Linked DNA regions of Homo sapiens. The protein of the gene in region 2 purifies or fractionates together with the protein of the main gene of each other region. This does not show direct contact. Each region holds a gene or a part of one and is shown on either strand. Other genes may lie near its edges.

Evidence for each region.
Region 1: the proteins of DNAAF10 (region 2) and CTU1 purify together in Homo sapiens (affinity purification with mass spectrometry, with the first as the bait; one large-scale study listed by BioGRID). This does not show direct contact.
Region 3: the proteins of DNAAF10 (region 2) and POLR1E purify together in Homo sapiens (affinity purification with mass spectrometry, with the first as the bait; one large-scale study listed by BioGRID). This does not show direct contact.
Region 4: the proteins of DNAAF10 (region 2) and RPRD1B purify together in Homo sapiens (affinity purification with mass spectrometry; 2 studies listed by BioGRID and IntAct, with this or other methods). This does not show direct contact.
Region 5: the proteins of DNAAF10 (region 2) and POLR2B purify together in Homo sapiens (affinity purification with mass spectrometry; 3 studies listed by BioGRID and IntAct, with this or other methods). This does not show direct contact.
Region 6: the proteins of DNAAF10 (region 2) and CCT6B purify together in Homo sapiens (affinity purification with mass spectrometry, with the first as the bait; 2 studies listed by BioGRID). This does not show direct contact.
Region 7: the proteins of DNAAF10 (region 2) and DNAAF2 purify together in Homo sapiens (affinity purification with mass spectrometry; one large-scale study listed by BioGRID and IntAct). This does not show direct contact.

The regions. Positions count from the first base shown.
Region 1 is NC_000019.10:51,101,910-51,105,409, reverse strand, and holds part of CTU1 (cytoplasmic tRNA 2-thiolation protein 1), read left to right. Parts: intron 1-819; 5' UTR 820-840; coding exon 841-1,348; intron 1,349-3,500.
Region 2 is NC_000002.12:68,151,028-68,154,527, forward strand, and holds part of DNAAF10 (dynein axonemal assembly factor 10), read right to left. Parts: intron 1-3,500. UniProt on the Homo sapiens protein: Key assembly factor specifically required for the stability of axonemal dynein heavy chains in cytoplasm.
Region 3 is NC_000009.12:37,499,448-37,502,947, forward strand, and holds part of POLR1E (DNA-directed RNA polymerase I subunit RPA49), read left to right. Parts: intron 1-1,392; coding exon 1,393-1,474; intron 1,475-2,265; coding exon 2,266-2,397; intron 2,398-3,500. UniProt on the Homo sapiens protein: Component of RNA polymerase I (Pol I), a DNA-dependent RNA polymerase which synthesizes ribosomal RNA precursors using the four ribonucleoside triphosphates as substrates.
Region 4 is NC_000020.11:38,040,246-38,043,745, reverse strand, and holds part of RPRD1B (regulation of nuclear pre-mRNA domain-containing protein 1B), read right to left. Parts: intron 3,312-3,500; coding exon 3,182-3,311; intron 1-3,181. UniProt on the Homo sapiens protein: Interacts with phosphorylated C-terminal heptapeptide repeat domain (CTD) of the largest RNA polymerase II subunit POLR2A, and participates in dephosphorylation of the CTD by RPAP2. Transcriptional regulator which enhances expression of CCND1.
Region 5 is NC_000004.12:57,023,896-57,027,395, reverse strand, and holds part of POLR2B (DNA-directed RNA polymerase II subunit RPB2), read right to left. Parts: intron 3,392-3,500; coding exon 3,284-3,391; intron 2,511-3,283; coding exon 2,397-2,510; intron 2,020-2,396; coding exon 1,859-2,019; intron 1-1,858. UniProt on the Homo sapiens protein: Catalytic core component of RNA polymerase II (Pol II), a DNA-dependent RNA polymerase which synthesizes mRNA precursors and many functional non-coding RNAs using the four ribonucleoside triphosphates as substrates.
Region 6 is NC_000017.11:34,930,461-34,933,960, forward strand, and holds part of CCT6B (T-complex protein 1 subunit zeta-2), read right to left. Parts: intron 2,041-3,500; coding exon 1,907-2,040; intron 592-1,906; coding exon 489-591; intron 1-488. UniProt on the Homo sapiens protein: Component of the chaperonin-containing T-complex (TRiC), a molecular chaperone complex that assists the folding of proteins upon ATP hydrolysis.
Region 7 is NC_000014.9:49,628,745-49,632,244, forward strand, and holds part of DNAAF2 (protein kintoun), read right to left. Parts: intron 1-3,500. UniProt on the Homo sapiens protein: Required for cytoplasmic pre-assembly of axonemal dyneins, thereby playing a central role in motility in cilia and flagella.

The DNA.
Region 1 (3,500 bases), on a different chromosome or scaffold from region 2:
ATGAAGTAGGAAAGATAACAGATGAAGGTCAAAGATGGGCCGATCCATGTCTTGGTGAGAGCACAGAAGCTTGTGGGGCATTCTGATACCAGAGCAGGGTTGAGTTCAATCTTGGAGGCCCACCCATTTTCTCACCCTCAAAATGTGTGCAACCCCAGCTGGTCTCCTGAGAGGTGTGATCCAGGCTGCCTGTGTTCCCTGGAGAAGGTGATCACCCTGCCTTTCATAGGATGCAATCAGAACCCATTCCTGGAGACCGTATCCCACCCTACAAAGTGCAATCAGTTGGCCTTTCCTGTTTTCCACCTCCCGCTGCACAGAGCTTCAGTCCCCTGGCCTCCCTCTGCCCTTAGAGTCAAAAACCCCTCACCTCCCAAGGGCTTTTAACAGCCCTGGTGGCCCAGGCCAATGATACCTACCTTGTCCTGATCAGGACTGTAACAAGGGTGGCCTCCCTGGAGGTTGTGACAAATGGGCCTTAATATACACCCCCATCCCTCTGGAGAGGACACAACCTAATCCTGGGTATAACCTGCTTGTCGCTCCCTCTCTTTACCCATGAAGCCAGCTTCTTAAGCTACTTCTCTTCTTCTTGCATAATGGGTGCAATCCAAGAAGCCTTCCCTAAGGCAGTGGCTTCCTTACACCGGACCTATTTATAACCATCCTATCCCCAGCGCTAGAAGAAGCTACTCCACTCGCGCACACGTCTCCCTGGTCTATTCCGGGCAGAGGTGCAATCCAGACAATCTCCCCGATGGCAGGGACCCTGCAATCCGGAATCCATATGTAACCCACCTCCTCTCTCTCCCTGTCTAGGAGAAGCCGACCCCTCCCGCAATGCCCGCCCCGCCGTGCGCCTCCTGCCATGCTGCACGCGCCGCCCTCCGCCGTCCGCTCTCGGGCCAAGCGCTGTGCGGTGCCTGCTTCTGCGCCGCCTTCGAGGCCGAGGTGCTGCACACGGTGCTCGCCGGCCGCCTGCTGCCGCCCGGCGCGGTGGTGGCCGTGGGCGCCTCGGGCGGCAAGGACTCCACGGTGCTGGCGCACGTGCTGCGCGCGCTGGCGCCGCGCCTGGGCATCTCACTGCAGCTCGTGGCCGTCGATGAGGGCATCGGTGGCTACCGGGACGCGGCGTTGGCGGCCGTGCGGCGCCAGGCGGCGCGCTGGGAGCTGCCGCTCACGGTCGTGGCCTACGAAGACCTCTTTGGGGGCTGGACGATGGACGCCGTGGCCCGCAGCACAGCCGGCTCCGGCCGCAGCCGCTCCTGCTGCACCTTCTGTGGAGTGCTGCGGCGCCGGGCGCTGGAGGAAGGGGCGCGCCGCGTGGGAGCCACGCACATCGTGACAGGTGAGCGTAGTACGGGCCGCAGAGCGGCACTCTCCGAGGCAGTGGGGCGAATGCACAGGCGAGGAGGCGGGACCTGAAAGGGGATTCAGGCGCATGCTCCAGAAGGCGGCGAGGAGACCCTGGTGGCTTAATGGGAGGATCCCTGTACGGAGGTGCGGAAGGGCGCATGCTGCAGTTTGGGGCTGGGGCCCTTTAAAGGTTCAAGACGCTGGGGAGACAGAGGGGCCAGGCAGTGATCACAAAGGTTTTTGGGTCTTGGCCACCGTCTTGGTCTCCACAGATTGCCAAAGGGGTGGGAGGTGAAAATCTCTGGAGATCTCTGGTCCTTTACTTATTTTTAAATGTTTCTAACATGCTTGATCTCTTATGGTCCACCTTTCAGAATCCAGCTCTTTCTCTAAAAAGCATCTCCATCTCTTAATTCCTTTTCTTGGTTGGCCTCTCCTCTTTGATAACTTTTTTTTTTTTTTTTTTTTTGAGACAGAGTCTCGCTCTGTCTCCCAGGCTGGAGTGCAGTGGTGCGATCTCGGCTTACTGCAACCTCTGCCTCCCGGATTCACGCCATTCTCCTGGCTCAGCCTCCCGAGTAGCCGGGGCTACAGGTGCCTGCCACCACGCCCAGCTAATTTTTTGTATTTTTAGTAGAGACGGGGTTTCACCATGTTAGCCAGGATGATCTCGATCTCCTGACCTCGTGATCCACCCACCTCGGCCTCCCAAAGTGCTGGAAGATAACTTTTTTATTCTGTCTTTTTCATCCATTCCTTCAACAAACAGATGCTAAGTTTCTGCTATATGCCGGATCCCAACTGTGGCCATACCAAAGTTCTTAACCACTCTGTACTTCTGTTTCACCCCATCCCTAAAACAGGACTATGAATGGTACCCAGCTCATAAACTTGTTATGACAATTAGATGAGTCAGTAGAAGTATAACGTTATCTATATTATAGTTATGTTACATAACCCGTATGATATAATATAGATTACACATTTTATACATGCTATTATCATCATCATTGTCAGGCTAGGGCTGAGAATACAGTTACGCACAAGTTCCTACCTTTGCATGGTTATCAGGTACAAAATTATAAACATTATACATGTTATTGACCATGTATGGACATGTTATGGACTATGTGTACACACAGAGAACCCTATGACGTGGAGGGAGTGGGGTCAAGGAACGGTTTTGAAATCTGAAGGCTCACAGTGAAGAGGTAAAGCGGGTAAGAATTAGGGAGAGGTTATTGGCCTGTGAAAAGCCAATTTGGGCTGCCCCAAGAAGTCCAGTGTGGCTGGAACCCAGAAAGCAAGGGCAGGGGAGGCTGGAGAGGTGGAAGAGGTCAGGCCTTACCCTGTAGGCTGTGGCGGAACCAGTAAAAGTGACATGAAGAGAGTTTCACTTTGAAAAGCTCACCCAGGCCATGGCGAGGAACCTGGGTTGGAGGGACAGGGACAAAGCCGAGGAGACCAGTCAGTGGGAAGCCAGCTGCGGTGATGGAGGTGAGAGATGATGGTTGGAGAGAATCAGCACACTGAAAGCATATGAAGGCAAAAGTAGTTCTGAGGCTGTCATGTGCCACCATGCTAGGTAGGGCCACTGGCTCTGGGGAAGGCTTACTGAGCTTCATTCACTGATGTGGCCCTTTCCTTACTGAGTAACTTTGGAGAAATCCCTAGATCTCTGTGATTGAAAATGGGAAGAATAATCCTTACCATACAAGAGCAGACAGTGTATGGAAAGAATGAAAGGCTTCGGCCGGGCACAGTGGCTCACACCTGTAATCCCAGCACTTTGGGAGGCTGAGGCAGGCGGAATCACAAGGTCAAACGTTCGAGGCCAGCCTGGCCAACATGGTGAAACCCCGTCTCTACTAAGAATACAAAAATTAGCTGAGTGTGGTGGTGGGCGGCTGTAATCCCAGCTACACGGGAGGCTGAGGCAGGAGAATTGCTTGAACCCGGGAGGCGGAGGTTGCAGTGAGTCGAGATCACGCCACTGCACTCCAGCCTGGGTGACAGAGCAAGATTCCAGCTGGGGGAGAAAAAAAAAGAATGAGAGGCTGCCTCGGATTTTAAAGTTAATTTGATAGAATCACTTATTAATTGTACTTCCAAAAGTAATGAAGCCTTCCAGAAAAATCCCTGAC
Region 2 (3,500 bases):
CACAATAAGCTCTATACATTTTCACAGTTGTCATTGCATCCCTTCTAAAAGTATGTCTTTATTACAAATATAAAGGAAAGAAGTAAAATGTATCTACATTGAGAAGCACAGACTCACAAGAGTGGCATGAAGGCCTATGGTATACAAAATGCAAAAAGTCCTTTGGGATCTGGTCTTGTGTGTGTGACTTCATTTCCTGTTTCCTGCCTTCTCTACTAATTCCAGCCACACCAGACAGCTTGCTTTTTGTTCTTCATACTTGTCAAGGTCTCTTCCACTTGGGCCATTTGAATTTGCTGTTCCCACTGCTTGGACTACTTTTCCCCAGGTCACCATGCCTCTATCCTTCTCTTCATTCAGATTTCAGTTCAAATGCCACATTCCCAAAGAGGTCTTCCTTGTCCCTCCAATCTGAAAAACCCCTAAATTACTGTCACTCACCCTGTTTAATCATCCATTATACTTATCAACAAAATTATTTTATTCATGCAATTATGTCCCCCTTTCTAGAATGTGAGCACCATGAGAGCAGGGCCTTGCCTAATTTTTTTAACGCATAGCAGGCATTCAACATTTGTTGAATGAAGGTATAAATGACCATCCATGAATCTCTCAGCCCTAACACTAGGGACAGACAAACCAGGGCTGGAGTTCACTTTCTTTGCTCTCTCTTTTCTCCTACCATACTTTCATGTGCCAGGGTTCTGACAAACTGTTCAGTTTCTGGTGTCATTGACATGCAATCATGAAAATAGCAACCATCTATTGAACACCTACATTTCAGATACATTTTAGATATTCTTCCAGTCTAGACCATCCCTTTTCTAATATATACAACACTGCAAACTAAGTGTTCAGAACACCACTTTCAAGATGACGAAACAGGTTCAGAGGACTGAGTGACTTGCCTAAGGTCCCAAGAGCCAGATACAATCCAGACTTTTTCCTCTAAACTAGGCTGCCTCCAGGCTTATATGTAAATCAATTAAATAAACATTTTATTATTGGAGTCCTCATTCTGTAAACCTGAGCGTTATTGGAAGTATCAAAGAAATGTTCCGATCTTGATTGCTGAGGTAAATGGCACAACGGCATGAATTAAACCTACTTTCAGATCTCTGCCCTTTGGTTTTTACCTTCATTCATGTCTTTACAAGATATAAATATATGATATTATGCTTCCCTCATGTTCTTTGTCCTTTTCTTAAAGAAACACAAAGATATTTATGGTCATTAGTGGTCTGCTGTGCAAGAACCAAATTAAACTCAAACTGTATATCTTCAACGTATTAAACGTATTATGAACATATTAAACGTATTAAAACTTATCATTTGTGTGCACTGAGGACTGCACTTTGCTCAGAAGGGCCGAGCTCTGTTGGCAAACTGACTTACAAAAGTGGCCATGTTTCCTCTTTCCTCAGACATTCATGGAAATAATAATAATAGCTAAATTAAGAGGACACTAGTGAAGCTAATTTTTCATAGTTCACAAACGGGTTCCCTCTCTGCCCCATTAGATAGTTTATCTACAGAAAAGAAAAGATGAAAAGAAGTTGGTGGTAAATCAAAATTTTTCTTGCTGGAAAACTAGCTGGCAAAAAAAAAAGCAGCTCTATCTTGCAAAAATTGTTCAACAAAGAAAATCAATATATACTAACAATTTTTGCTATGTGATACTGAAAATGGCCATCAATGATGGTCATAATTGACCTAACTGTTCACTTTCTTGCTATAAGAAGTTAAAATGATTAAAGAAGCTCAAGATCAGTAATTCCTGTGTGAGCTATTTTTGTTCTGCATGTGGGTGGGTCTAGTACAGCTTGTCAGTATTTCCTCCTCCACATCCTGGCAATACTTAATTAACATTAAAAGATCTAGCCAACCAAATGCTAACAAGCAGTAAATTCGGTAGCACAGGGGCTAAAAAAGCAGAATTTTATTAGCTTATTGCTATTTTTTTTAATATAAACATCTACAACTGTGTTTCCATTTTTCAGGGCCATCCCTAGTCCATATGGTATCTTTGTGCCAATGAGAAAAAAGTTGCCTTTTATAGGCTGATGAAGTCTCACACATGTAAGGCTTGATGAAGGAAAAAGAGCTTTTAGCTCCCACTTGAGCACTCAGCCAGACACCTTTGTGTGGTGCAAAAAACTGCTCAACTGAACACGGAGGCCCTGCCCTCCATTCCCTATCTATCCTTTTAGAACTAAGATAAAGAAGACTTCAACAAAGACTGATATGCTGATATGCTTCCTTTACATCTTTTCTTCTTAGATGCACGGGCTTTGTGAGCTCCAAGTCAGTGATAAATTAAAAAAAAAAAAAAAAAAAAAAGAACGATGCATGAGTTTTGGAGCACATGACTTAAGGGTAGATCTACGATGATACATCAAGTCTGTTTCCTAATATTTTAATAAATGACCCATCTAGCTCAATGGTTCTCAGCTCTGAGACTCATTAAAATCACCTTGCGGAAGTTTAAAAATACTCTGATTTCTAAACCTTACTCCAGATGCAACAAAGTTGTACTACTGTGTCAGAATTTCTAGGGGTGGGACCAAGGCACAAATGTTTTAAAACACACACACACAAGCCACAAAATGCACTCAAATGATCCTGATGCACAGTAAGGAGTGGGAGTTACTGGACCAGTATTTAACCTATATTTAAAAATTTTTTTCCATTGCACCAGAACAGCCAAACACAATGAAGTTTTTTTTTTTTTTTTTTTTTTTTGGAGACAGAGTCTTCCTCTGTCTTCAGGCTGGAGTGCAATGGCGCGATCTCGGCTCACTGCAACTTCTGCCTCCCGGGTTCAAGTGATTCTCGTGCCTCAGCCTCCTGAGTAGCTGGGTTTACAGGCACGCACCTGACCACGCCCAGCTAATTTTTGTATTTTTTAGTAGAGATGGGGTTTCACCATGTTGGCCAGGATGGTCTTGCTCTCCTGACCTTGTGATCCCCCCGCCTCGGCCTCTCAAAGTGCAGGGATTACAGGTGTGAGCACCGCGCCCAGCCCAGTGTAAGTTCTTAAAGGTATTTTTGTATTAGTTTTACCCTCTTTTTGGACAGTAGGCTCTTTAGGAGAAAGGACTCAACTTTTAAATCTCTTCGGTCCTTGTTAAACACAGTACCTTGAAATAGTGTGTTCTCAGACAACTCATGGTAGAAAAAAAGAATATCCAAAGGATTCAGGTGAAAATATACTTCTTTTTTCTTTTTTTATTTTTTGAGACGGAGTCTTGCTCTGTCACCCACGCTGGAGTGCAGTGGCGCGATCTCGGCTCACTGCAAGCTCTGCCTCCCAGGTTGAAGCCATTCTCCTGCCTCAGCCTCCTGAGTAGCTGGGACTACAGGCGCCCGCCACCACGCCCGGCTGATTTTTTGTATTTTTAGTAGAGACGGGGTTTCACCGTGTTAGCCAGGATGATCTCGATCTCCTGACCTCATGATCCACCCGCCTCGGCCTCCCAAAGTGCTGGGATTACAGGCGT
Region 3 (3,500 bases), on a different chromosome or scaffold from region 2:
GGCCTGTCATTGACCAAAACACTGTAATGTGGGACATGACTGTATTTGCTTAGTCATGCTTTTTTTGTTGTTTTTTTGTTTTGTTTTTGTTTTGTTTTTTTTGAGACAGTATCTCGCTCTGTCACCCAGACTGGAGTGCAGTCCCATGATCTTGGCTCACTACAACCTCCATCTCCTGGGTTCAAGCAATTCTGCCTCAGCCTCCCGAGTAGCTGGGATTACAGGCGGGCACCACCACGCCCAGCTAATTTTTGTGTTTTTAGTAGAGACGGGGTTTTTCCATGTTGGCCAGGCTGGTCTCGAACACCTGACCTCAGGTGATCCACCCTCCTTGGCCTCCCACAATGCTGGCTGGGATTACAGGCGTGAGCTACTGCACCCAGCTTGTATTTGCTTAGTTCTTTTTTTTTTTTCTTTTTTTGAGACAGAGTCTCGCTCTGTCGCCCAGGCTGGAGTGCAGTGGCTCGATCTCGGCTCCCTGCAACCTCCACCTACTGGGTTCAAGGGATTCTCCTGCCTCAGCCTCCTGAGTAGCTGGGATTATAGGCGCCCGCCACCACACCCGGCTAATTTTTGTATTTTTAGTAGAGACGGGGTTTCACCATGTTGGTCAGGCTGGTCTCGAACTCCTCACCTCATGATCTGCCTGCCTTGGTCTCCTAAAGTGCTGGGGTTACAAGTGTGAGCCACTATGCCCAGCCAGTTGTTTTTTGTTTTGTTTTGTTTTGTTTTGTTTTGTTTTGTTTTGTTTTTTTGAGATGGAGTCTCACTCTATTGCCCAGGCTAGGGTGCAGTGGCGCAATCTTGGCCCACTGCAACCTCTGCCTCCTGGGTTCAAGCAATTGTCCTGCCTCAGCCTCCCAAGTAGCTGGGATTAGAGGTTTGCGCCACCATACCTGGCTAATTTTTGTGTTTTTAGTAGAGATGGGGTTTCACCATGTTGGTCAGGCTGGTCTTGAACTCCTGACCTCAGGTGTTCTGCCTGCCTCGGCCTCCCAAAGTGTTGGGATTACAGGCGTGAGCCACCGCGCCTGGCCACTTAGTTCTTATTTTCACATTCCAATTCCACCTTTCCCCCTCTCTCCCTGAGCTTTCAGCACAATTTTTGTTTTCTAAGGTCATGTTAACTCTGGGTCCTTAGGCCTCAGGCTGTGTTTTCTTGTCATTGCCCCATCACCAGCATCTCTCGTGCAGGGCAAACTGCAGGCTGCAGCACACCAAGCATGTTTTCATTTTGATGTGGCTGTTCTGCTTTGTGTGGGCCCTGCTTCTCTTACCACCTGGTTCTGGTCATTGCAGTGGCCCAGCTGTTGGCCTTTTCTCTTAGCTCATGGTTGAGGTGTGGCCTGAGGGTTTTGAGAGAAAATGATCAAACTCAACTTTGTGTTGTAGGTGCTCTGGGACCTGGAGTTCCCCACATCATCAACACCAAACTGCTGAAGCACTTTACTTGCTTGACCTACAACAATGGCAGGTCAGGGGGTGGTTGCTGGGATTTTTCTTGTGCAGGAGAAAGTAGGTGGGGGTTGGGAGTGAGGAGCAGGGGCTTGGACTCAATTCCATGTCCACGGAGATGCAGTGCTGAAAAGACTGCTGCCATTTGGAAGGCTCCTGGGGCCCCAGTAAGTTTAGCAAATGCTAAATATGACATACTCTGCCCTTCTTAGAAAAGTATTACCTTTTGGGAACCTTAGAAGCTCTGGGAAGTCCTACAATAAAGACTTGTTTTACTTCACATACTTTTGAATAGCCCTTCCCGATGTCTCACAGAGCTGGTGTTCTGCGGAAAGGCAGCATTGCAGAAAAGGGCAGCCCAACTCGGTGACTCTGGGGAAAGACCCGCAGGCCCTGCCCCTGGGCTTCCTTCCTGCCATTTGCATGGCGTGTGTTTTCTGCTCTTGAGTGTGCTTGGAAGAATCAGCACAGCTGATTTCGGGATGATTGTTTTCCCAGCAGCCCTGCTGGGCAGGCGGGGACAGACTCACAGGGCCCTCACCAGCTCAAAGCGCTAGCAGTGCCCAGGTAGAGTGTAGGCCCAGCTTTCTCTATCTGCCTCAGAGGGAAACATGGACTGGCACACTGCTCCACTGTGTGTGAGGCCCAGGAACCTTGGAAGGGCAAAGTCACCCACATTCCTTTTCCTTTCCTGAAGTTGGGAAGACATTCCGTGCATATGAGAATAGGATTGGATGTTCTTATTTTGCTTTTGGAGAAATTGTCTGAGAGTTTAATTTTGTTTCTCCTTTATTGCCACTGATTTTCTAGATTACGGAACTTAATTTCGGATTCTATGAAGGCGAAGATTACTGCATATGTGATCATACTTGCCTTGCACATACATGACTTCCAAATTGACCTGACAGTGTTACAGAGGGACTTGAAGCTCAGTGAGAAAAGGTGAGCACAACAGAATAAAGAGCTCCCTGCAGGGTGTCTCGATGTCTTATTTCTGGTACCACTGGAAAGCATGAGGCACCACCAAGGGAACTGAGGATGTTTAAATGTGGGAACAACTTGGAACTAAAGGACTATTTTCAATGAATGAATCATTGACTGAATGAGCAACTAGACATTACTGAGTGCCTTCTCTGTGCTAGATAAATTATGTCATTATCTCACTGATTTCCCTAGAAAACAATTGAAGAATCAGGCTCAGAAAAGTACGTAACATTCTCAAGGTTACACAACCAAGAGGGGAGTAGTTGGCCTTGAGACCTGAGCCTTTCCATAACATTCTGTTCTGAATAACCAGGCAGCCTCCATTCTCTGAATTGCTGTCACAGGGGAGAGGGATTCTGTATGGTTCTGAGGAGTGCAGCTCAGGGTGGAAGTTGTAGGACAACCCAATTTGAGCTTAGTAAGAAGAGCTTCCTCACAATCAGATGGAAGGGTTTGCCAGGGGAACCGCTGGTTCCAAGGCCAGGTGGAACTGCTGTTTGGCAGGGATTTTATGTTTGCACTTCTCTGACCCAACTGGGAGAGCTGGTGGTGGAGGTGACCTTTTAGGCTCCATCTAGCCTTGTAGAGGAGATTCAGACAGTAGGGGCAGAGCTGCCCAGGAACCTGAACTGTGAGGTCAGCTGATCTTTGTCAGTGATTTAGGGGCATCTGACATCCAGTGGCCCAGAGGGTGTCTAGGAGAGCCTGTGAACACACCTCTGTCTGGACTCTCTAGCAGTCCGTGGAGGGACTGTTCTGAGGGCTGTCCACAAACTGTGTTCCCACAGGCAGTGAGGCTGAAAAAAAGAGAACAGGTACTTGGAACCTGTCAGATTCTAGCAAGTGCTCAATCCTGGTTGCTAAAAGTTTGGTTATGGGAGGTAAAGAAAGTTGCTCACGGGGCTGTAGATACCCTGGTTTTTCATCACCCATATGGATCTTTTGAAGGGCATTAAAATGAAATTGGCTGTCTGATGGTTCCCAGCGGGTGAGGGGACCTTGCCTGCCTCTCTGCCAGGGGCTTTGTGCCTGCTGGCAACCTTTGGGATTCTGTCTTTATG
Region 4 (3,500 bases), on a different chromosome or scaffold from region 2:
TCACTTACTACCAGCTCCCACTCAACGCCTATAAATCCTATCAGTTTTACACTGGAGAGGTGGGGATCCTCCCACGAAGGAAGCACTCAATAAATGGAAGCTATTAGTATCTTCCCATTGCTTCTGAGTCCTAGGCAATGTCACCTCTAGCCTGCATCACAGCAATATCCTCCAAACTCATGTCCCCGCCCCTCCCTTGGCCTTTACAATCCATCCCTCTACACTAAGCCATTTTTAAAGAGGGATGTTTTAAAAATGTATGTTGGAATATATTGGAATATATCATTCCCCTGGTTAAAACTCTTCAATGACATCCCATGAGAAAAAAATCCTAACTTCCAAGACTTACAGGGTGTATGTGACTGCTGCATGTCCACCTCTCGGACCTCATCTGGATATCACTTTTCCCTTTGTGCACTATATTCTAACCACACCAGCCTTCATTCTGTTTCTCTTAGAAGGCCAAGATGATCTCTGCCTTAAGTTTTTCTTAATAGCTGCTCCCGCTTCGCATGATTACCGCAAATGTCATTTCCTTAGAGGCCTTCCTGAACCACACTACCTGTGAGATCCTACTCTAGAACATCACTCCATTTTACTATGTCCATATTGTCCTGCTCTGAAAGTATCTTGCTCATTTAATTGTCTTTGCCTGCCTTGTTCACTGCTGCTCCCCCCGTGTCTGGATCCATACTTGGCACATAGAAGGCACTCCAATACATGTTGAATGAAAAATGACATGGACAGCTGTCTCCTCACTGGGAAGAAAACAAGGCACTTGTATGAAAAGCAAGTTTGCAGTCTGGTTAATTAAACTGCTATTCAAATCAAATCTATCCTATGAACTTGGCAGCTTTCTCTGACTTGAGAGTTTTTTTTACTGTTTGTTTGTTTTGGGTGTGGAGGTGTCTTTTATCATAAAAATATCCCTCATCAATTTAGTCAACAGTAATGGGTCAACTATCTTTGTTCATCAACTGACCACAGAAAAAGCACACAGAAAGTATATGTTAATTAGGCTACTCCTACTGTGGACGAGCTGCATCACGGTTGAAGCAGAACTGTTGGACTTTCTGTCCCAATAATGGGGTATAAGAAAGGAGATTGGAAACATGGGTATCCTGAATGTAATACCCAAGCAGAATCTTAAAAGAACCAGAATGCAAACAGAAAGGAATTCGGGCTATTTTATTGAGAAGGACCAGGTTTATCTTCCTCACACTGCCACTGAATCTGCCAAGACACCTAAAACCTGGCTAGTTTTTAAGGTGTTCCCAAGAAAAAAGGAATTTTTAACCCTGGTGTTGCCCACCCCCTTTTCCACCCCTTTCTATTTACTTTTTGGTTTCAGGACAGCTAAAGATTACAGATCGTTTGTCTGTTTGTAATTTAGAGACAGGGTCATGCTCTGTTGCTAAACCTGGAGTGCAGTGGTATGATTATAGCTCACTACAGCTTTGAACTCCTGGGCTCAAGCAATCCCCCTGCCTCAGCCTCCCAAGTAGCTAGGACTACAGGTGCACACCACCATGCCTGGCTAATTTTTAAAAAATTTTTTGTAGACACAGGGTCTCACTATGCTGCCCAGGCTGGAATTTTTTAATAACACTGTTATGTTTACTATCCCTACAAGAAATCATTCCAGCCAACTCCCTAGACCAAATCTCTTCCATAATGAGTTAACATTAATTAACTCATTTAACAAATATTTACTGAACGCCTACTGTGTCAGGGCAGACCATAATGTTGCCCAGCTCCTGGGACACCACTTACATGGAGGCTATATAAATGGTATTCCTTCAAGCTACATAACTCAGCAGCTCTGTGCCAGACACTTTACTAGGTGCCTGGAATATAGGAAAAAACAAATGATCCAATGAATGAGCAAATGTGGAACAGGCATTGTACTACATACTTTTAAACATATTGTCTGTCTTTACCCTCACAACTCTTATGAGGGGGAGTGGTATCCTCCCCCTTTAGCCAGTTAGGAAATTTGGGCTCAAAAAGTTAAGTAACACATCCAAGGTCACTCACATAGTGTCTGAGGCAGAGCTACCATCAATTTCTAAGCAACTGTGAACTAAATCTCATCAAAGCAAGAAAATCTGTCTATTTCAGATAGCTCCTCTAGTAGTCTGTTCTAAGCTTACTCTGTTATGAAGATTCAGTATTTTTTTCAAGTTAATAACACATTTTGCTACTTGCGCCCATGTTGATCAAAAGGTGAGCCAGTTATGTAACTTATCCACAAAAACCATCTTTTTCATCTCTAGAAAGCTAGGTGTCATTTCTTTCTCTTGGATTTCTAATTTTATTCCTTCAAACTTTTCAAATCCTGCAATGAAAGCAGGACTTCATTTCTCATTTAAGGCCTTTCACTATATTTTAGACCTAGTAACAATTTATGTTTAACCTACTAGTCTCCCATTCATGTTTCCCAATTCCTTTTGCAAATATCTGTTTATATATTTACTTATAAACATAATATTCTAATGAACGATAGTTTTTCTTTGCTTTTCCTGGGCACCTAATTTAAGCCCACAGAAAGCTTTTGTTTTTACATGAAGTAAAGTAATTTATAAAACTTTTAATCCAATGTATGCTTTCTATGGTATTAGTTGTATGAGTGCCACTCCTCTCTGCCACAAAACACAACAGCACCAGGCTTAATACAATATAGCCAGAGCAAACACCTACTTTCTACACTAATAATTACTATTATTGCAGTTACAGTAATGCCTACTATTTTTAGTAAACTAGACATCTAGAAATCCAGAAGGAAATAAAAAGGAAGGCATTTGGCAATTAATTTCTTGCTATTAAGTTATGTTACTAAAAGGTTCCCTTACTAGTTAGCTTTGTTTTTTGATCATAAGCTGATGAGACAACTCAACCAAACCAAGGAAAATACCATAACCAAGAAATAAATTCAAAAAATGAAAATGAATATATCTAGAAGAAAGATAATGCTAGGCTGAATCTCTCAAATGTATCAGAATGTTTACATGTCTCGATAGTTCTTGAGGGCTCAACAAAACATAAAACCACAATTCGGCCTCCACAACTCTCTGTAAAGTAGGAAGTTGTCAATTTACAAAGGCTATCACAGAAAAGGAAAGAACAAAAAGGTGGGAAAGGCAATGAATTTAAAAACAAATCCAAAAAACAGACAACATACCTGGCAACATGAGAAAAAGCATCCACAAGGACAGATTCAAATTCTCTAGTGAATTCAGGTCCTTTCCTTTTACTGTTTTGGATGACATCATTCGCTAAATACAGAAAAGTAAGCTTTCTATTTGATTTGGCTGAAAAAAAGAAAAGAAAAGAATTTAACTTACACCAAAGAAATTCTCAATTCACAATTCTTTTGCCCTGGGCTGCTCCTAAAAAAACATTAAGACAAGTATTATCTACCTGGGGGGTCAAGTAGATATGTTTAAAAAGACCACCTAAGGAATAGGTTTGGGAATACCATTTCGGAAAAAAAAAAAAGA
Region 5 (3,500 bases), on a different chromosome or scaffold from region 2:
GTAGAGGCTGCAGTGAGCTGTGATTGTGCCACCACACTCCAGCCTAGGCAACAGGGATGAAACTGTCTCAAAAAAAGGGAAGGGGTGGGCTGGGCGTGGTGGCTCTTGCCTGTAATCCCAGCAATTTGGAAGGCCAAGGCAGGCGGATCACTTGAGGCCAACCATTTGAGACCAGCCTGGGCAAAATGGTGAAACCCTGGCTCTACAAAAAATACAAAAATTAGCTGGGCTTGGTGGCGCACACCTGTAATCCCAGCTACTTGGGAGGCCGAGGCACGAGAATTGCTTGAATCCGGGAGGCGGAGGTTGCCGTGAGCCGAGATCGCACCACTGCACTCCAGCCTGGGTGACAGAGTGAGACTGTCTCACAAAAAAAAAGCCAAAATATTCCTCTCTTTCCAACCACTTATTTGCATGAAATTAGAACTTCCTCATATACTTAAATATAAAAAATAAAATACTACAATGGAATGAATGCAGAAGTAGATGTAAGAATCCAGCTGTTTCTATTAAGCCAGGTCATTAGAGAGATTCGCAAAAATGTAAACCAATGTTATTCTTGTCACTAAATTCATCTGGAAAATAGATATATTTTTCATTAAACATGGTTTTTTGTTTTGTTTTGTTTTGTTATCGAGACAGAGTCTCACTCTGTCGCCCAGGCTGGAGTGCAGTGGCACGATCTTGGCTCACTGCAACCTCCACCTCCTGGGTTCAAGCAATTCTTCCCTCAGGCTCCCGAGTAGCTGGGATTACAGGTGTGAGCCACCACGCCCAGCCAAAACATGTTATTTATGTTAACACGTAATGAGCTTATTAGCATTTTTAAAACAATAAATTTAAAATCTCAGCTTTAACTTCTAATATGATAAATATCAATAAATACAACTCACATAAAACAAAAGCATTTTGGGTTCCCGGGATCAAGACATTTGAGAACCATTGTTTTAAAGATATACACTGAAAAATTTATAGGAGAAATTATATGATGTCTGGGCTTTGCTTAAAAATAATCAAGAGGGCTGGGTGCAGTGGTTCACGCCTGTAATTCCAACACTTTGGAAGGCTGAGGCTAGAGGATTGTGGCCATGAGTTCAAGTCCAGCCTGGGCAACATAGTGAGACCCCCGTCTCTACAAAATTTTTTGTTTTTTGTTTTGAGATGAAGTCTCACTCTGTCACCCAGGCTGGAGCACAGGGGTGTGATCTCGGCTCACTGCAACCTCCGCCTCCCAGGTTCAAGTGATTCTCATGCCTCAGCCTCCCGAGTAGCTGGGATTACAGGTGTGTGCCACCATGCCCGACTAATTTTTTGTATTTTTAGTAGAGACGGTGTTTTGCCATGTTGACCAGGCTGGTCTTGGACTCCTGACCTCAGGTGATCTACCCGTCTTGGCCTCCCAAAGTGCTGGGATTGCAGACATGAGCCATTGCGCCTAGCCTCTACAAAAAAAAAATTTTTTTTTTAAAGGTGTAGTGGCACATGCCTGTAGTTAAAAAAAAGGTTGGAGGACAACCAATAAATTCAAAAAAGGACTTAAGAGACAATATTAATTTAGCTACTTGGGAGGCTAAGGTAGGATTGCTTGTGCCCAGTTCAAGGCTGCAGGGAGCTGTGGGCATGCCACTGCACTCCAGCCTGGGTGACAGAGTGAGACTCTGCCTTTAAAACATGATGATAATATCAAAGGTTAGAAGGACAGAGATGAATGCAACAAGACTGGCCATCAGTCGATAATTGTTGAAATGGGGGTAACAGGCACACAGGCATTCACTATACCACTATCTCCATTTTGGTGTGTTGACATTTTTCATAATATAAGGTTAATTAATAATAATGATGATGATACAGTTCTTACCGAGATCTACCCTCCATGGGCTGTCTATTGAGGATCTGAATAGGTCCCCTAGCACGAGAGTGAATCTTATCATCCACCATATGCTTCAAACGCTGGTAATAAGTGGGGCCAATAAATATTTGTGATGTGATTTTTCGACCAGTGAACCCATTGTACAGGACCTGCAACAAACACAGATTTTGAAGTGTAGACCTAAAAATTAAACAACGTCAAAGAAGATATGTGTATATATTGTGTTACTCCATTTATATAAAAATTAAAGCACAGAACTAATCTATAATGTTAGCAATTAAGAGAGTAATTAGCTTGGGGTGGGAGTGGAAAGGTAGCGACTAAAAAAGGTTCAGTCGCTACCTTCACATTTTTAGATCTTGGTGTTAGTCATGCAGCTGTGTTTACTTTGTGAAAATTCATCAAGCTGTACATTTCTATATGTGCACATATGATACTTCAATAAAAGGTTACATTGTTTCAGAATAAAACTACACACATACAAAAAAAAACAAGTGGCAAATTACTACTATAAGAGCAAATATACCTCATTTCCTCTGAGATGATAGCCATAATCAGATAAAAGATTAGAAATCTTCTGCACGTTAACAGCATCATTAAATGGAGTGGCATCACCAATTTCACCCTTGTTAGCCGATACCTTTTAAAAAAAAAAGTACTCTTTAAAATGTTGCTTCAGTCTGTCTCCCCCTAAAAGTCATATCAATAAAAATGCATTCAAAAAATTTTTAAATACTTTTAAAATTTGAAAGTATTATTTTAAGTATTTTAAAATTCAAAGATTTTGAACTCAAAATCTATGTTATGGAAAGCTGTGATATATAAGGTTCATTTTATAACCTTACACAAAACATTTAGAACAAATAAACTTGCTTAAAAAAGAAAAACTCAATTATAAGTATTCAAATAGAAGTCGATCCATGGGATCAGGTACAAAAAGAGTGAGACTCCTAAGTACTTCAGATGGCTCAAAGGAAAATGACATTTTAATGCCCTAAAACCAAGCCATCCATATGTTAGACTATTACCACTTTACCTTAAAAGAATACTTAAAAATAGAAAACCTCCACCAAAAGATGTATGCAGAGCTGATAATAGAACTATAAAATTATTAAGTTCACATTGAACTCTCCATCAACAAATTAACTGTTCATCTACAGAAAAGAACTAGTCAAAAGGAAAATCACATATGTATTAGTTGAATGTAGTATATCTCACAAAAATTCTGACTTGTCCATAACTTTGCAAATTGCCAAAAAAAATGGCAGAATCATAAGCAATTTGAAAGCAGAAAAGTAAGTCTCACACTAGCTTTTTACAAAGTACCCTGGCTCAAATGTGAGAGCAATCACCTATCAGAGTTTTAGAAGAAGCATCAGCTTAGAATCTATATTTTTGAAGAACATCTCTTACCTTCCCTTGAAGGCATTCAATTAAGTGACCAATAGTCATACGAGAGGGGATGGCATGGGGATTGATGATGATATCAGGGGTGATACCTTCACAGGTGAAAGGCATATCCTACAAAGAAAAATTTTAAAAGGGACTCAAAGATACATATACTAAACTAGAACTGACATTTCAGTTCTCCCAACTGAATTACTGTATGTCCCAAATTCTGTTTAAACAT
Region 6 (3,500 bases), on a different chromosome or scaffold from region 2:
CACTTAACCCCAGTTGCCTACATGGCTAATTTCCTCACTTCCTTCCACTTTTTTTCAACAGACATCTAGATGATGCCTACCCTGACCAACCCTTTAAGCTGTCATTCTCTCTCCACCCTCCTGTACTAGCATTCATGATCATTATTATAGCACTCTTTTTTCCATATAATTCATTACTTTTTCTAAAATGCTGAAGGAGTTTATTTATTAAAGTTATTATTTACTGCCTACCTTCTCCCACTACAACATAAGCTCCCAGGGGCAGATATTTTTGTCTGTTTTGTTCTGTGTGAAGCCCAAGAGGAAAACAAGCACTCAATAACTATTTCTTAAATGAATGAACATTTTTTAAGAAGCTCAAAAATAAACTAAAGGCATCCAAAATTTAAATATTAAAGTTACCCAAACCTCTACTCCTTTACCATAAGATCTGGGTAACTAAAGAATAACCTCTTTATTAAGCAGCTAATTTTCCTTCACTTTCTTACCTGTATTCAAATCTACGCCCACAAGTTGTTTTGACTCGACATGCTCAGCCTGAACTTTTACTAATGTTTCCTGTGGGTCATAACCAGCATTCTGAGCAAGAACCTTTAGGAATAAAAATAATAATATATATTATATATATATGCATAATACCTTCACATATATCAAATATAAAAATACTCTTTACTCTTGTAAAAACACATCCATAACATGGCAATCATCTCCTTTTGAAGAATTCCACTTTTAATCTAAATCAAATTATTATTTCATCTATCTAGTAGTTTTTATATTTACTTAAACATTTCCCCTATGCACGTCACACTAAATTCTGAGGACATCAGAGTTCCCCCATTTTTACCCTACTACATTAATTTCCCTCCTTGCAAAAGGTTTGTTTTGTTTTGTTTTGTTTTTAGTATGGAAGGAAGTAGAATGATATTCTTGTTTCCTCTAGTGCCGCTAGCCACATGCCCTCCAGTTCTTCATAGGCACTTGCTAAGGAAACCAGAATATTTGCAGCACCTTTGTGCCCCTCATCTTCATGAGGAGAGTCACGACCTGTGGTAACAGGGTTGGAGATACCTGCACTCCAAACCAGGCTCACTTCCAAGTGGCCCCAAATCACCAGCTGATGAGGAAAAAGGTACCACCAATGTAATGTGTACTGGGGTTACCAATTTCTGTCAGCAGCAGGATCATACTGACTTTGCTGCTCTGGGGAAAGAAAAAATAGCAAATCTAATTCACAAAGATTTCACAAATTATGAAAAATTTTAATAAAAATTAGCAAAGAGATTTTGCTAACATTGTTAATAATGTTTTAATTCATGGTAATAGCATCTTTGAAGTAGTTTTACTATATTTCTAAGGTGGTTTGAAACCAATTAAGGCAAAGACAAAGGAATGGTCGCTTTCTGTCCTTAGGTTGCCACATGGAAAAATTCTGTTTTCTCTTTTTCTAGGAATTATAATGATGATGACAAATGTAAGGTTGTATCTAGGAGTGCTAAAGAGCCTCAAGCCCTCCCTCTCCACAATTTAAATTGATTACATTTGGATACCACTAACAAAACAAAGATGTACCACAAAATCTAACTAAATTTTAAATTCTAAACTTTTTCATTATGATTAGTTAATCATGAGTCATTTCTGAAGGAAATTTTTGGAGCTGCTTTAATTTTTGGAACTCAGAGAAAGAAGCAAGGGGGTAAGTTGGCTATTTCATGAGATCGTGCAAGGATCCTGGGCTGTTATCGCAAAAGTTTCCCTGCTTTAGTTGTAAAATATCTAAGAGAAAACTGTGTAAGGAAATGCACATAAATACCTGTCTACTCCATTAACTATCAGATAATATGGGCAATTTGTAATTAAACACCTTTATGTCTAAGCAGTTGTTATTTGGCCGAAAGGGTAGTTGTACCTTGGGAATAATGAGTAAGGCATCAGCAAAAGCTTGGACTCCAAGACGAGCTCTTCCTTTTATACTGTTCTTATATGTAACAAGAGCTTCAGCCATTGCCACTTCAATTGCACCAGCTCCAGGAACCATACAACCTATTGGAGAGAAAAAATATGATTGGCAAGACATGCCATAAAGACCAAAAGAGAGAGAGAGACAGAAAAGCAATTCACTATTTAAGTATGTTCTATTATCTACAGAAACCAAATAAATTGCACAGCTTAGTAATTACTCAGTTATCTTATGAAACATCCTGAAGTTATATGTCATTAAATAAATAGGCATAGTACAGATAACTGGCTGCAAACAGCTTATTTTGCTCCTTACCCTCTGGTAAACAAGAATAATTTATTTTTACCTTCATCTTACTCTTTTATAACTACTTTTTTTTTCTGAGATGGAGTTTTACTCCATCACCCAGGCTGTACTGTAGTGGCATGATCTTGACTCACTCCAACCTCTGCCTTCCAGGTTCAAGTGATCCTCCTACCTCAGCCTTCTAAGTAGCTGGAATTACAGGCGTGCACCACCACACCCAGCTAATTTTTGTATTTTTAATAGAGATGGGGTTTCACCACGTTGGCCAGGCTGGTCTTGAACTCCTGACTTCAAGTGATCCACCCACCTCCGTCTCCCAAAATGCTGGGATTACAGGTGTGAGCCACCACACCCGGCCTTATGACTACTTTTAAGAGGTATTTATAATTTATATTGACAGGTAACTGATTACAATATCTGACATGAAAATTCTTTAGACCAAGATCATTTGTCTAGTTTTTGATAGGGAATTCTTGGAACTCAATGAAGTATTTGTTTTTTGTACTGCAGCAGAACTCAAACTGCTATCTAAGAAAAAATTTAAGTGGTATTATTCTAAAGCAAGAGTTTTGGTTAAACACATCAAATTTCACATCAGGATATCACTTTTATATCTGCTACTTGTATGGTTTCATAAAGTTTATGACTCTTATTTAAATCAGAAAACTTGCTTTAAAACAAAACAATACGAAAACAATCTCCCCTTTTATCTCACATCATTTTAAAATTACTACCCCCTTTCACTGCTTCACTTCACAACATAACCGCTCAAAGAGTTGTTTACCCACCAGATGATTACATCATTACCTCCCATTCACATTTTTTAAAAGTTCCTTGTTAAATACAGAATATACTCAAAAGAATATTTATATGTATGATATAAAGAATAAATGCACAAATAAACAAATGTATCCATGTACCTACCACCCAGCTTAAGAAAGAGATTACTAGAACCTTTGAAAACTTCCCTGATCCCATTCTCTGTGAAAACACAACATATCAAAATTTTAGCATCCCTAAAGCAGTACTTAAAGAGAAATTTATATCACGAAACACCTATATTAGGAACGAAGAAAGTTCTCAAACTAATGACCCCAGCTTCCACCTTAAGAAACTAGAAAAGGACAGGGTCTGGTGGCTCGCTCCTATAATCCCAGCACTTTGGGAGGCCAAGGCAGGTAGATCACTTGAGCCCGGAAATTCAAGACCAGCCTGGGCAACACAGTGAGACCCCATC
Region 7 (3,500 bases), on a different chromosome or scaffold from region 2:
ACAGCTGGCCTCTTTTAGTATTTCAGAAGAATAACATCATCTCTAGGGCTATAAATGGGATCCCAGATACAAAATATAATTCAGCTTTAAAACATTTCCTAATGAGGTGGCTAAGAAATATACATGAAAAGATCTATTCAAATTTTGTGTGACCTTTTAGTTCTTGGGCAGGTAAGAGCCAATTACAGTATTTTATTTCAAATAAGTGGTGTGTTTTTTTGTTTGATTTTGTTTTTGAGACAGAGTCTTGCTCTGTCTCCCAGGCTGGAGTGCAGTGGCATAATCACGGCTCGCTGCAGCCTTGACCTCCCAGGCTCAAGTGATCCTCCCGCCTCAGCCTCTACAGTAGCTGGGACCACAGAACATGCCACCACTCTCGGCTAAGTTTTGCATTTTTTTGTAGAGACAGGGTTTTGCCCTGTTGCACAGGCTGGCCTCAAACTTCTGCACTCAAGTGATCCACCTGCTTTGGCCTCCCAAAGTGCTGGGATTACAGGCGTGAGCCACCACCACACCCAGCCCCCGCCCCCCTTTTTTTCTTTTTTTTGCCTTGAGACAGGGTCTCACTTTGTTGCCCAGGCTGGAATGCAGTCGCACACTCATAGCCCCCTGCAGCCTTGACCTCCCTGGCTCAAGCAATCCTCCACCTGTGCCCCCAAGTGCCTGGGTACCTGGGACTACAGGTGCATGCCATAATGCCCAGCTAATTTTTACATTTTTGGGGCCTGGTGTGGCAGCTAACGCCTGTAATTCCAGCACTTTGGGAGGCCAAGGTGGGTGGATCACTTCAGGTCAGGAATTCGAGACCAGCCTGGCCAACATAGTGAAACCCTGTCTCTACTAAAACTGCAATCACGTGAACCCGTGAGGCGGAGATTGCAGTGAGTCCAGCCTGGGCGACAGAGTGAGACTCTGTCTCAAAAAAAAAAATTTGACATTTTTTGTAGATACAGGTCTCACTTTGTTGTCCAGGCTGGTCTCCAACTCCTGGATTCAAGCTGTCCTCCTACCTTGGCCTACCAAAGTGCTGGGATTACGGGCGTGAGCCACTGCACCCAGCCAAGTGTATTATATTTTTAAGCACTGGGATACTCCAGCGTAACATTAGCAAACTGTATAGTTATTAAAAGAATGAAGTAGAGAGCATATATTCAGGGCATTTTGAATCTATGCTCCAGAGAAAAAGTAAATTATGAAAAAAATTAGGCTGGGCACAGTGGCTCATGCTTATAATTCCAGCACTTTAGGAGGCCAAGGCAGGTGGATTGTTTGAGCCCAGAAGTTCGAGACCAGCCTAGGCAACATGGCAAAACTCATCTCTACAAAAAATACAAAAATTAGCCGGGAGTGGTAGCATGCACCTGTGGTCCTAGCTACTCCAGAGGCTAAGGTGGGATGATCGCTTGAGTCTGGGAGGTTGAGGCTGCAGTGAGCCATGATCGCACCACTGCACTCCAGCCTGGGTGAGACAGAGCGAGACTCTGTCTCCCAAATAAATAAATAAATAAATAAATAATGAGGTAGATTTCAAGATGCTGACATGAAAAGATTTCTAAACTATTACTAGAAAATGCAAAAATCACCTTTTACCTGAATCCCAAACACAAAGCAGTTTGTTCATGTCAAGTGAATACAGGTGTATAGTTAGGGTGTGGGGAGAATAACCATATTAACCATATTTTAAATTAATTTATAAAAGCAGTTCATTGTTGCCCCAAATAAAAATGTTTTCCTCTGTAGTTTTATATAAGCAAATTTTGTAATTACAAAATAAACACAGCTCATTATTTGGTCCAAATAGGTGGAAAATATCAGAAAGAAACAAGTTTCAAGTTTCTTGAACTTGGGAACATATATTCAGGGCAACTTGAATATGTGTTTCCCAGGTTGCAGTCCTCTATTTTGGCCCAAATAAACTCTCTCTCCACACACACACACACACACACACACACACACATAAACTCTCTACACACACACACACACACACAAACTCTCTACACACACACACACACTTTTTTTTTTTTTGAGAAAGAGTCTCACTCTGTCACCAGGCTGGAGTACAACTGCGTGATCTCAGCTCACTGCAACCTCCACCTCCCGGGTTCAAGCAATTCTCCTGCCTCAGCCTCCCAAGTAGCTGGGACTGCAGGCGTGCACCACCACGCCCAGCTAATTTTTGTATTTTTAGTAGAGACAGGGTTTCACCTTGTTGGCCAGGATGGTCTCAATCTCCTGACCTCGTGATCTGCCTGCTTCAGTCTCCCAAAGTTCCGGGGCTACAGGTGTGAGCCACCACGCCTGGCTACGTATTTTTCTTCCATTAAACAGTATTTAAAATCGTGAAAACCTACCAAACAAAAGTGAACCTTGGGAATAGAAAAATTTTACATTTAGAGTAACTGGCTTTGCTATTATTTGAAGATCCAGAATAACACAGTGTTACAGAAACATCCCCATCGAAAGCATTTCTAAGGTTCATGCCTCTGGGAAAAGACATCATCTTTGACTCCTTGCAAATAATACACCAAATATTTTAATTTTTAGTTATCCGAAGGAATATATAGTGGACATGGTTATGATTAAAATACAGAAGATTTGCAGCCGGGCGCGGTGGCTCATGCCTGTAATCCCAGCACTTTGGGAGGCCGAGGCGGGTGGATCACGAGGTCAGGAGATCAAGACCATCCTGGCTAACACGGTGAAACCCCATCTCTATTAAAAATACAAAAAATTAGCCTGGCGTGGTGGCAGGTGCCTGTAGGCCCAGCTACTCGGGAGGCTGAGGCAGGAGAATGGCGTGAACCCGGGAGGTGGAGCTTGCAGTGAGTGAGCCGCCCCACTGCACTCCAGTCTGGGCGACGGTGCAAGACTCCATCTCAAAAAACAACCAGAAGATTTGCATAAACTTGCCTTCTCAGTCTAATGACTGATTAAATGACTAATGAACTGAAAAAGTTACTGACCTCAGAGGCTCTGAAGATTTAGGAAAATTGTCAGTAAACACTGAAAACTTCAATACATATATTTAGTATTTATTTGTAAAGTTCTGACCTTGAAAGCCACATAACAGTCTCTTTATGATTATTTTCATGTAATGCATATAATATTATCATTATATATGTTCCACTACTCATGATTTTTTTCCAAAAATTTAACACTGAGAGCCTGGTCCAGTACAAAGTAAAGCAAAAGAGTTACATGCTGTTGTTCCATCAGCTTTAGAAAAATGTGATGATTAGTGAAGTAATTACAAATCTATTTCAGGCTTCAAAGATATAAAATACAGTTGCCCTAATCCCATTTTCGTCGTTTATTTTCTAAAATGTTAGCATACTTGAAAATCGGATTAAAATGTATTATTGAATATTTTCTTAATTGCTTGTCTACAAAGTTTTCTTCCCACATTGTGGGTTATTTTCATATTTACTAAAACTGTTACAGGAAAACAACTGCCCTTTCCTAAATGTCCCACTTCTGATGACAAAAACAGATACTCAGTT